Linked DNA regions of Homo sapiens: region 2 is linked to region 1. The links come from fine-mapping of genetic effects on gene expression. Tissue or cell type: left ventricle. Region 1 holds a variant in brackets; the other region holds the start of a gene. All regions are shown on one strand. Distances are between the middles of the regions. Region 1 holds the start of LOC124901031 (a long non-coding RNA gene). Region 2 holds the start of ERAP1 (endoplasmic reticulum aminopeptidase 1).

Region 1 (5,264 bases):
CAAAAAGTTGACTTCCCGGATTTACTTTTAAACCACTAACCACAGTGTCTCTTGGTCAGCATTGGGAAGCTGTCCATTGAAAAGGCCTTGGATTTATCCCTGTACTTGAAACATGAAACTGAAATTATGCCCGTGTTTCAAGGTTTGAATGAGCTGATTCCTATGTATAAGTTAATGGAGAAAAGAGATATGAATGAAGTGGAAACTCAATTCAAGGTAAAAGCCTGAAATAAAAGTTATGTAATTATTATTTGTGTTAAAAAGTGTTAATCATTGTGTGTGTATGTGTGTGTGTGTGTGTGTGTGTGTGTGTGTGTGTGTATCTTTATATACATATTAAGGAAAAGCAAATAAATATTAGTTCAGTATTTAGATGGACTAGCAAGATTTTGGTTTTATTTGGCACTAAAAATAGGAATGGCATTCTTAGACTCTATTTAATTTGCATGGATTTGTTATTTCCTTCCTTTCACAAACCTTTTATTTCATTTTCCTTTCCTATTACAATGGCTGACGTTCAGATTTTCTGGGACTCTTCATGGTACTTGAGGAAGAGGCACAAAATTGTTATGCTTGGCAAAATGTCCTGAAGTCTTGTTGCATAATTTGCTCTCAAAATTTAGTCATGTAAACTCTCTTTGAGTTTGTTTTAAAAGTCGCAATTCATCCTGACTTTAAGTAGATGGATATCTTATAAAAGTTTGTTATGAAAATATGAAAGTCATTCATCATTATTTATTGTTTTTGGCCCTTTTATAATTAAACAGTGCTGCATGATTTATACAGTAAAAGTTAGATTATGCTTTAAAAATTAGCCCCCATCATCTGAGACCATAATGGATTATATTAACATGAAATGACCTGTGACAATACTGGTCCCTGTTTCCCTGTACAACGCCCTCAGGCCTTCCTCATCAGGCTGCTAAGGGACCTCATTGATAAGCAGACATGGACAGACGAGGGCTCAGTCTCAGAGCGAATGCTGCGGAGTCAACTACTACTCCTCGCCTGTGTGCACAACTATCAGCCGTGCGTACAGAGGGCAGAAGGCTATTTCAGAAAGTGGAAGGAATCCAATGGAAACTTGAGGTCAGTCCTTACTAAATAACCAATTTGTTGATGTGAAGGGCATCTTTTCTGTTTTCCATCATTGGTACTAAACATTAGGGAAAACAAAAAGTTTAAGTGTCTCCCCTGCTGCCCTTTTCTGGAAAATAAATTGCTTTTTAAGATTTATCTATGTATCTCGTAACTTTAAGAAATGCTAGGAGGGAACTTCTATGCATAAAAGTCAAATATCTGGGGAGTTAGGATGGTATGGGAATAATTCTCATTTTGTATAGGCAATGCAAAATCTTATTAAACGGTGACAGCCATGCCATAGAGAAACACATGCATTGTATTTTATAGTAGTTTCTTTGGGCTTCCAAATTCCCTGACAGGGATGCATAGTAATTGCTGACACTGTCTAAGCAAGGTAGGATTTTACCGTATCTGGAAATCCCTATTCTTGCTACACTTCAGTCCTTTTTACATTTGGAGCTTAAACCCCACCCAGGAAACATTTATGCCAACAACCTACATGCTTCAGCTTAAAGAAATCCAAACAGTGGTCCTACTGCCGTCCTGACTTGTGATCATGGTGTAAATTTTGAATATAGTTTGAATTTCTTTTGGCTTGAAAGGTGATCCCCTATGGAGTCACCCAGCATCATTAAAGTATTTAAATATGTAGGTATTTATAAAAATGGCATTTCACATTTTTGAGAAGGCTACTTAAAACCTAATTTTAGATATTTTTCTCTTGCCTTTTTTTTATAAAGTGTAACTAGGCCAGGCGCGGTGGCTCACGCCTGTAATCCCAGCACTTTGGGAGGCTGAGGTGGGTGGATCACGAGGTCAGGGGATCAAGACCATCCTGGCTAAGACGGTGAAACCCCGTCTCTACTAAAATACAAAAAATGAGCCGGGCATGGTGGCGGGCGCCTGTAGTCCCAGCTACTCGGGAGGCTGAGGTAGGAGAATGGCGTGAACCCGGGAGGGCGGAGCTTGCAGGAACCGATATCGAGCCACGGCACTCCAGCCTGGGTGACAGAGCAAGACTCCGTCCTAAAAAAAAAAAAAAAAAAAATTGTAACTGAAGGAAATCAGTAGTTTTTGTTTATATTTCCAGGCATGCTTCTCTGATCATGGGGAAAGTTCAGCAGTTCATAGTTAGTCACCATTATGCCTCTAAACATACTTACTGCACCTCAGATTCTCACCGAGTGTGTTCCTTTCTATAGCCTGCCTGTCGACGTGACCTTGGCAGTGTTTGCTGTGGGGGCCCAGAGCACAGAAGGCTGGGATTTTCTTTATAGTAAATATCAGTTTTCTTTGTCCAGTACTGAGAAAAGCCAAATTGAATTTGCCCTCTGCAGAACCCAAAATAAGGAAAAGCTTCAATGGTGAGTCCGTCATTCATTCATGTTCATGTGGCCAAGGGAAATTAGATTAGATTAGATCATTCTGGCATCTATTTTTGTTTTCTTGGCCAGGAATTGCCTATCCTGCTGGGAACATACTGCAAGTCAGCACACATCTAATGAGAAAGGCAAATAATTAGGGAGAACCAGGTGTTAGGAAAAATATTTAAAGGTGTATACATTTGTGCATCTTTAAAATGACAACATATTAAAAATATTTACTAGAGCTACTCTTCCTTAACTATTCTTTTGAGCAAATGAGAGGGTATATGAGAATGGGTGTTATGAACACTATATAAATGTTAGTTTTTATTATGTAGCTATAGTGGGTTTATCAGGATTGTGGTTACCCATTTATCTTTTTAACCTTTGTTACTGGCAGACTTTTTTTTCTTTTACAAGTAATTTTATTGCAGTGATTCATAACTGTTTCATCAC[C/T]TATTCATTGCTAACATTTCTTTTCTTAATCCTTCTAGGCTACTAGATGAAAGCTTTAAGGGAGATAAAATAAAAACTCAGGAGTTTCCACAAATTCTTACACTCATTGGCAGGAACCCAGTAGGATACCCACTGGCCTGGCAATTTCTGAGGAAAAACTGGAACAAACTTGTACAAAAGTAAGTGGTGCCAAAAATTGTGCTGTGACTGGATAAGTTCATAACCTTACTGTGTTTTAGCCTTGCTGTTTGTAAAAGAACAGTAACAGTCTAAAGGTACTTTTTGATTGAAGATAGGCAGTAGAAATACCTAAAATATTTGTAGAAAACATAAAACTGGACTTCAGTGCTAACTAGTGAATCTGGACAGGGATGTTTTCCATTCCATCTGGCATAACCCCTTCCTGAGCCCATGGACATATCTGAAGCCTTCCTCCTCACAGTTCAGCCCAGGCCTTCCATGAACACATTTGCTTGTTCACATCTGTCTTTGTCTAACTCTTATAGCATTTCCTGCTTCTGTCATTTTCTGTTGGATACTTAACCTTTTATTAGGCTGTTGGTGTGTATTATTCTTTACAGCTAGATCTTAACCCATTGGATAGACATCATATTTTGTATTTTTCACACCGATCAGTTTTTAGCTGAAAGCTATTATATATAGGAGGCCCTTAAAATATATGTTAAATGAATAAGTATTTCACAACCCGTTTTTGAATATTTCCCTCTCTAGGTTTGAACTTGGCTCATCTTCCATAGCCCACATGGTAATGGGTACAACAAATCAATTCTCCACAAGAACACGGCTTGAAGAGGTAAAAAAAAAAAATCTATATATATATTTTTAAACATAAATGAAAATTAGCTAATTAATATGGGGTAGACAAAATACTTTGAGGGTGTGGTGAGTTAGAAATGGATTGTCATTTAGAAGTTATTTTTGGATGCTATGGTGTTGACAGCAGCATAAATCAGTTGCAATTAAACTAGTGAAAACTGTGCCTCTTCTCAGACACGTTAAGAGGTCTTAGCTCTGCCAGTAAAAACCTTAGGACTTGAAGAAAATTACTTGAGACAATTAGTCCTTGTTTAAGGATGTTAAAAGTGGGCACTGAGGTATAAATGACTGAAGTGGTCATCCAGCTGTTGCTAAAGAGGCAGGTCCGGAATCTAGGTTCTTTATAAACCATCCAAGTTCATGGTTCCCTGTCACTTATTATGTAACCATCTACCTTCAGAAAGAATTTCAGGCAGCTTTAAGATCCATGTATAAAAGAAATGTTAAAATGAAGGACAAAAAGATACATAATGGACAGGTGATAACCATGTGAGGGACTTATGGCTGAGGATAATTCTCGCAATTGTCCCCTGAATTTATCACAGACATTCCTGGAAGTCAAGGAAAAATGAGGAATCAGTATGAGTTATTCTCATTGTCTGGTAAAAGAGAACATGAAGCATACACATTTTCTACAAAAGCAGACTTTTCTTCAGTCCTAAACTCGAGGACTTTGATGTGTGGGCCATTGAGTTCTGTGGTGTCCCTTCTATAATAAGGTTTCCTATAGTAAAGTTGTGGAACAAATTTTACAAGGCTCTTAAACTGTGGTACATTTAGATAAAAGCTGAGAGGCTAATATTAATTTTTTTAGGAGTGGTTCCATTGTGTAGTCTGGTTACACTATTTTCTAGCTTGAGATGGGGAGAGAGCTTTGGAAATGAAAAAGAATGAAGGGTTGTTACAGTCTCGTAGCTTTTTTCCAGTTTTCAGTAGCCTCATCCAGGCTTGTAAAATTAACTTGCATATAATAATTCAAGCTTGAACTCCAGCGAGGTCTAGAGCAGAGATACTCTGTCTGATGACTGAAGAGATGTCCAAAGCCTTGACCAGAAAGGTAGTCATCTATAGACAAGATCTATAGCAACAAAGCATTTCATTCATTCACTTGTATTCTCATTAATTCATTCAAGACATATATGCCACACATGGTTTTAGGTTATGGGGCTGTAACAGTGAACAGACAGACAAAACCTTTGCTGTCACGGAGCTGAAATTTCTGCTGTGGGAATCAGACAATTACAGACAAATCAACCAATGTCAAGTAGTTACATGCTCTGAAGATGAATAAGGCAAGGAGAGTGATTGGGATAGAGGGTTGGTGCTGTTTTATAGGATGATTAGGAGACATTTGAGAAGATATCGAAGGAAATGCCAACATCTAGAGGAGTATTGTGTGCAGAGGAAATATCAGGTGCGAAGATCCTGAAGCAGGGCATGAAAAGTAAAGAGCCCGAGATGTTATCATAATGGAGAGCAAACTACGGACATATAAAATACGGGAGTCATCCTGAATCCTTTCTT
Region 2 (5,496 bases), 27 kb before region 1:
TCTTCCCTGTTTCTGATTATTAATAAGATGGTATTGCTTTTGTTAAGCAAGCCTGCTCTGCAACTTGGCACAGAGGGGGAAAAAAGTCATCCTCTTTATCAAGAATATCAAGAATGAGGGGCATTATTATTTTTTTTTAAATTGGCATTTAAAAAAATTAAGTTCTAAGGCCCTGGGAGCCTATGGAAGAGTCTCAAGGACCACAATGTGTGTGGAAGGGCCGGATAGCAGTGGGCAAGGCTGACTGGGTGGAGCTGCCCTGTTTAATAAGAGCAGGCCTGCTTTTGTCTGTTTTCTACACCATGATTCTGGATGAGATTTTACATCAAAAAGGAGAGTGGTAATATGATTAAAATAGGAGCAGCTTTGGCAGCAAAACAGAAGAAATGAGCCAAACGCTGACATTAATTGACTAAAAGCTAATGAAAGCAGAACTGAATCAATCAATTACAGCAAAATTGAACATCACTTGACAATATCTAGAATTCAATATTTTTTAAGTAGATCAGTAATAGCTCAAAGTGGTATGTATTTCATTGGCCTAGGCCTGAAATTCTCCTCATTCCTCTGGCTCACCTCTGGGACTAAGGACACTGAGAAGCCTCTGCAATGGATGGGCTCAACCGGCCAACCAGCCCTCCTACACTATATGGTATACAATATTAGTGTTTACCAACCCCTCCTTGTTCTGGCCAATGCAATGTGAGTAGAATTAGTGTGTGTTTTCTCTTTGACTCTGAGCAAGTTGCCGACCTGTCTCATTTTTCTCATCTATAAAGCATAATATCTACATTACAGGGTTGCTGAAGAGATCAAATTATAAACACACACATGCACACATAGCTAGCATTTAACAGTATCTAACAGTTGGTAGGGAATCAATAAACCTAGGTACCCTTTCTCTCTGTTCCCTTCCTTCTAACCATTTCTAAGCTCGGTAATGTGCTGTTTTGATCTCACAGGCTCTAGAACTAGGACTCCTTAAAGTCCTTACTCCAAGGTCTGTGTCCTCTACATCCCTGCTAGGGCTTTGAAACTAGAAGTGAATGCTGCCAAATCCTCTGACTTATCGCTCTTTGTAGTGCACTTCAACTCTAAAGACGAAATCACGGCCAGGGCGACAGGCTAAAGTCTGAGTCAGGGTGAGCTTTTGGGGAAACGGCGTGGAGCGGGTGGTGGTGTCAGCTCTCTCCTCGCCTACACTTCAGCTCCTTTCTGCCCACATCCATTCAGGGCATTGCCCTGTTTGTCTCCTCAGCTGTCTTCTGTATTAACCTCCAGCCTGTTGGGTGCATTCAGTTCTGCCAGCTGGACTTTCAATATGTATTTAAAAAGACACATAAACAAAAAACAAAAACAAAAACAAAAAAACTTTACTAGAAGCCAAAGGAAAACCATCATATTCAAAAATATAAATATAAAAGCAAAGAAATGCATACATTTACTGGACAAAGAGGTCTCATCTTGAGTAAACTGGGAGCACTCCGAGATGTCTGGAGGTCTTGGAGGCTACACGCTATCCATTGATACCTCCTGTCAAATTCTGAACATGCAGAAATTACCAGATCTCAAAGTCCTCATTTCTTGTTGAATTTTAGTGAAAAAAACTTCCCTGGATCCCACCGTAGTTGAGTCTTGGAACAGGGTGTTAATCTTTATATTATAAAATGTCCTTGACTAGAGATAATAGGCAGTATGAAACATTATATTTTTAAAAAGGAAACATAATATTGAAAAAAAAAGAGAAATACTGTTGCAGTGACTTGGAATCCCCAGTTCTCAAAGGGAAGAAGGCCAATAAAGAAGTGGGAGAAGAAAGTCTGAGAACCGCATGAAAAGGGTCCTGTTCCCACTAGGACCATGGTCCACTCACCAAATTATCAGAGACGTTTGAACCAGAGCAACTCCATCTTGAATAGGAGCTGGGTAAAATAAGGCTGAGACCTACTGGGCTACACTCCCAGGAGGTTAGACATTCTAAGTCACAGAATGAGATAGAAGGTAGGCACAAGACACAGGTCATAAAGACCTTGCTGATAAAACAGGTTGCAGTAAGGAAGCTGGCCAAAACCCACCAAAACCAGGATGGCAATGAGAGTGTCCTCTGGTCGTCACTGCTACGGTCTCACCAGCTCCATGACAGTTTACAAATGCCACTGCAACGTCGGGAAGCTACCCTATATGGTCTAAAAAGGGGAGGCATGAATAATTTCCCCCGCTTAGCATATAATCAAGAAATAACCCTAAAAATGGACAACCAACAGCCCTTGGGGGTGCTCTGCCTATGAGTAGCCATTCTTTTATTCCTTTAGTTTCTTAATTACTTGCTTTCACTTTACTCCATGGACTCCCCTCAAATTCTTTCTTGCGCAAAATCCAAGAACCCTCTCTTGGGGTCTGGATCGGGACCCATTTTCGGTAATAAACTTGTAGCATTTGGTGTTTTAATGTTTGTGTTTTCTTGACTTGTTACCTCATTTAGCCTCAACTGTTTAAAGATGGTCTTTTTGGCCATTTTATTCAGCTTTAATTGTTCTAAGGGGAGTGAAGAAATGGTCATTTACTTTGAAAAATCAGAGGGAACGTGTTGATGCGGGAAGCAGCTAATCCTTGGGGTACAGTGGCCCTTGGTAGTGCAGGAAAGTCCTGGGGGCCACCTCTAACCCACCTTCCTCCTCTACAGCATCTCCCACTGTAGTCATTCTCTACCGAAGCCCCAGAAGGTGCGGCACTTTGCCACGACAGAGTACTGGGTTCATGTTTCTTTCCGAGGCGGGCCAAGAGCTCTCAGCCCACTGGCAGTGGCGAGATGACGGACACCCAGCGAGTCCAATGGGCGTCGAACGCGTCTAGGCTTGGTGGACTTGTCAGCGCCTGCCTGGCTTCGGTCCCCAACTTGAGCACCGGCCCTTTCCTGCATGCCCCTAACCCTCGCAACGCTAAACAGTGAAAAAAAAAAAAAGACAAAAACAAAAAGCATCTCAACACACACACACACACACACACACACACACACACACACACACACACACACACACACACACACACACACACACACGGATCCGCGTTCAGAAAGGCGTGCACTTCCTACGCCTGATCCCCCGCATCGCAACCTCGCAGCTTCCCCGGCGTGCAGCGCTCATTTACCAATTCCCTTCCTGGGAGTTGCGGCTTCCCTCGCTCGGCCCCACTCCCGTTTACCCTTTCCCCAGCTCCCGCCTTAGCCAGGGGCTTCCCCGCCTGCCGCTAGGGCTCGGGCCGAAGCGCCGCTCAGCGCCAGCCTGCCGCTCCCCGGGCTCCACTTTCACTTTCGGTCCTGGGGGAGCTAGGCCGGCGGCAGTGGTGGTGGCGGCGGCGCAAGGGTGAGGGCGGCCCCAGAACCCCAGGTACAGCGCGCTCGAGCCGCGGGTAGGGGACTGCGGGCCGGGAGGAGAGCGCGGCACCCGCCCCTTCCCTGCGCCCGTCAAGTGGGGGGCTGAGGGCCTGGGGCACGGGAGGAGGGAGACGGGGCACGGGAGGAGGGAGACGGGGCGCGGGAGGAAGGCGACGGGGCGCGGGAGGAAGGCGACGGGGCGCGAGACAGGGCGCGGGAAGGGCGGGGGGAGTCGCTGGCTAGGCCCGAGTCCGCGGGGTGCCCGGCGGGTTGGCGGCGGGCCCACCCCTGCCGGTCCCTGTCCCTGTCCCTCCGGGCGCGTGGCCGGTGCGCCTGCTTCACGGGTCTCCCCGCTGTTCGGCCGGCGGGAGCCTCCCTCAGCGCTCCGCCTGGCGCCTGGATGCCTGCCAGTCCTGCAGGCCACCGACGCCCGCGCGAGGCCAAAAGGCGGGGTGGGGCGGGCAGCTGGCTCGGGCTGAGGAGGGCACCTGCCCATAGCTGCTAGAGAAACCCAGAGGCTTTGGGTTAAAGACTCTGGTGGGGTGGGATGCGCGGGCCGTGTGTGTTCTTAAGGTCACTTCCCTCCCTGCTTCTCCTGTTCTTCTGGTCAGCAATTCTCTCTCTCCCCTTCGCTCTGGCTCTGGCTGGGTTTTATTCAGATAAAGCACCTCTGTTGACGCAAATTAAAAGTTTCCTATCTGGGTGCCTCACTGGCCAGGTGGTCCTACAAAGTTAATTCCATGAGGGGAAGGGGGAGAGCACACACTTCCTCACGCTTTTGGATTTCTTTGTGTAGGCTAGGTTCAGAAAGAAATTATCTGTTTCCTATTAAACACCCAGAGGATTCGCTCTGAACTCAGGACGTGGTCAACAATTAACAAAACAACAAAACAAAACAAAACAAAACAAAAAACTTGAAAATTGGGCACAGTTGTCTCTTGCCTGAGGATTTTTAATTAGTATAAGTAGCACATTTTCAGGTGCGGCCTGAATAGAAACATTCTAGTACTTTTTTTTTTTTCAAATTAATCCAGCATTTTTATTATTTACCAACAGTGCTTGTTAATTTCATTGTTCAGGAAATTCTGGAAGAACCTCAATTACTTCTTGATGATCTATTTCATATACTATAGTGCCCCAATAAAAGGAAGGGAGGCAGAGGTTGCAGTGAGCCAAGATCGCACCACTGCACTCCAGCCTGGGAGACAGAGCGAGACTCCGTCTCAAAAAAAAAAAAAAAAAAAAAAAAGAGGGATCTTGGTGAAGCTGAAAAAGCAGGGAGTTTATACTCACACAGATGTGGATTGCATTCCAACAAGTTGTGTGAACTTAGCAAAGTTACATGAATGGTTCTTTGCTTCAGTTACCCCACCTTGAATGAGAATAATAGGCTATTAGAGAGAGTGAGCATGTGTAAAGTGCCTGGCACTTTGGAGGAGCTTAGTAAATATTAGTTCTTTTTCCTCCTTGGCTTCTATTCCTTTAAGTGTTAGTGGAGTGTAACTTCAAAGAGAATTGTACTTCTCTTGGGAAGAGCTGCTTATATTGAGTAGACTACTGTTTTTGAGAGCTTTCTTTTTTTTTAACTGCCTCCCTTTCAGAAAATTGTTAGTAAAACCAGACCCTAGGAGACCAGCCAGAACCATGAAATGCCATGTTTCAAACTGGAACACTTACTATTGGAAGCAAAGCCAAACAAGAGCTAATTTTTCAGGGGAAGAGCCAAACACACGAACATGATCACAGAATCTTGGATGTAGCCTACAGTTTGGGATTAATAAGAGAATTTATTAGTGAAGCCCTTTATTCACTACATGGAGTTTTTACCAAGCCCCACTCATGCACTGCATCCTCGTTGAGACATAACTGTTTCTCTTTGGACCCCTCATGGACCCAACCCTGCAAAGCCTCTGATCCAAGGTCCCGGTACCAACCCCTTCCGCAGCACATCAGCCTTTCTGTCAGCTCATAACGAGTTGGAATTTCTAGATCTTCTCTGGGGCTGTTGGAGAGGTCTCGGGGACTTTCAGAGTCCTTACATGCTTGAACCTGCCACCTTCACAGAGTCCTCTGGATCCCGTCTTGGGGCAGGGGCGATGCTCATTAAGCTGTTGCTGCCAGTA

The links. PIP is the estimated chance that this variant, and not a neighbour inherited with it, causes the effect.
Region 2: ERAP1 starts here. The variant in region 1 is fine-mapped to the expression of ERAP1 in left ventricle (GTEx, PIP above 0.99). The same link has a PIP of 0.9 or more in spinal cord, subcutaneous fat and visceral fat.

The regions. Positions count from the first base shown.
Region 1 is chr5:96,778,876-96,784,139 of GRCh38, reverse strand. ERAP1 (endoplasmic reticulum aminopeptidase 1) reads left to right here. Exons shown (of 19, transcript NM_001040458.3): 14 at 60-216; 15 at 905-1,089; 16 at 2,286-2,447; 17 at 2,942-3,082; 18 at 3,636-3,717. It overlaps LOC124901031 (a long non-coding RNA gene), which reads right to left and starts at 60. Exons shown (of 2, transcript XR_007058877.1): 1 at 1-60. RefSeq lists an enhancer at 2,569-3,768. The variant C/T (reference allele first, on the strand shown) is at 2,904.
Region 2 is chr5:96,805,750-96,811,245 of GRCh38, reverse strand. It overlaps ERAP1 (endoplasmic reticulum aminopeptidase 1), which reads left to right and starts at 3,301. Exons shown (of 19, transcript NM_001040458.3): 1 at 3,301-3,386. LOC124901033 (a long non-coding RNA gene) reads right to left here and starts at 3,788. Exons shown (of 3, transcript XR_007058879.1): 1 at 2,669-3,788. RefSeq lists enhancers at 2,621-2,690, 2,847-3,346, 3,347-3,848 and a silencer at 3,421-3,880.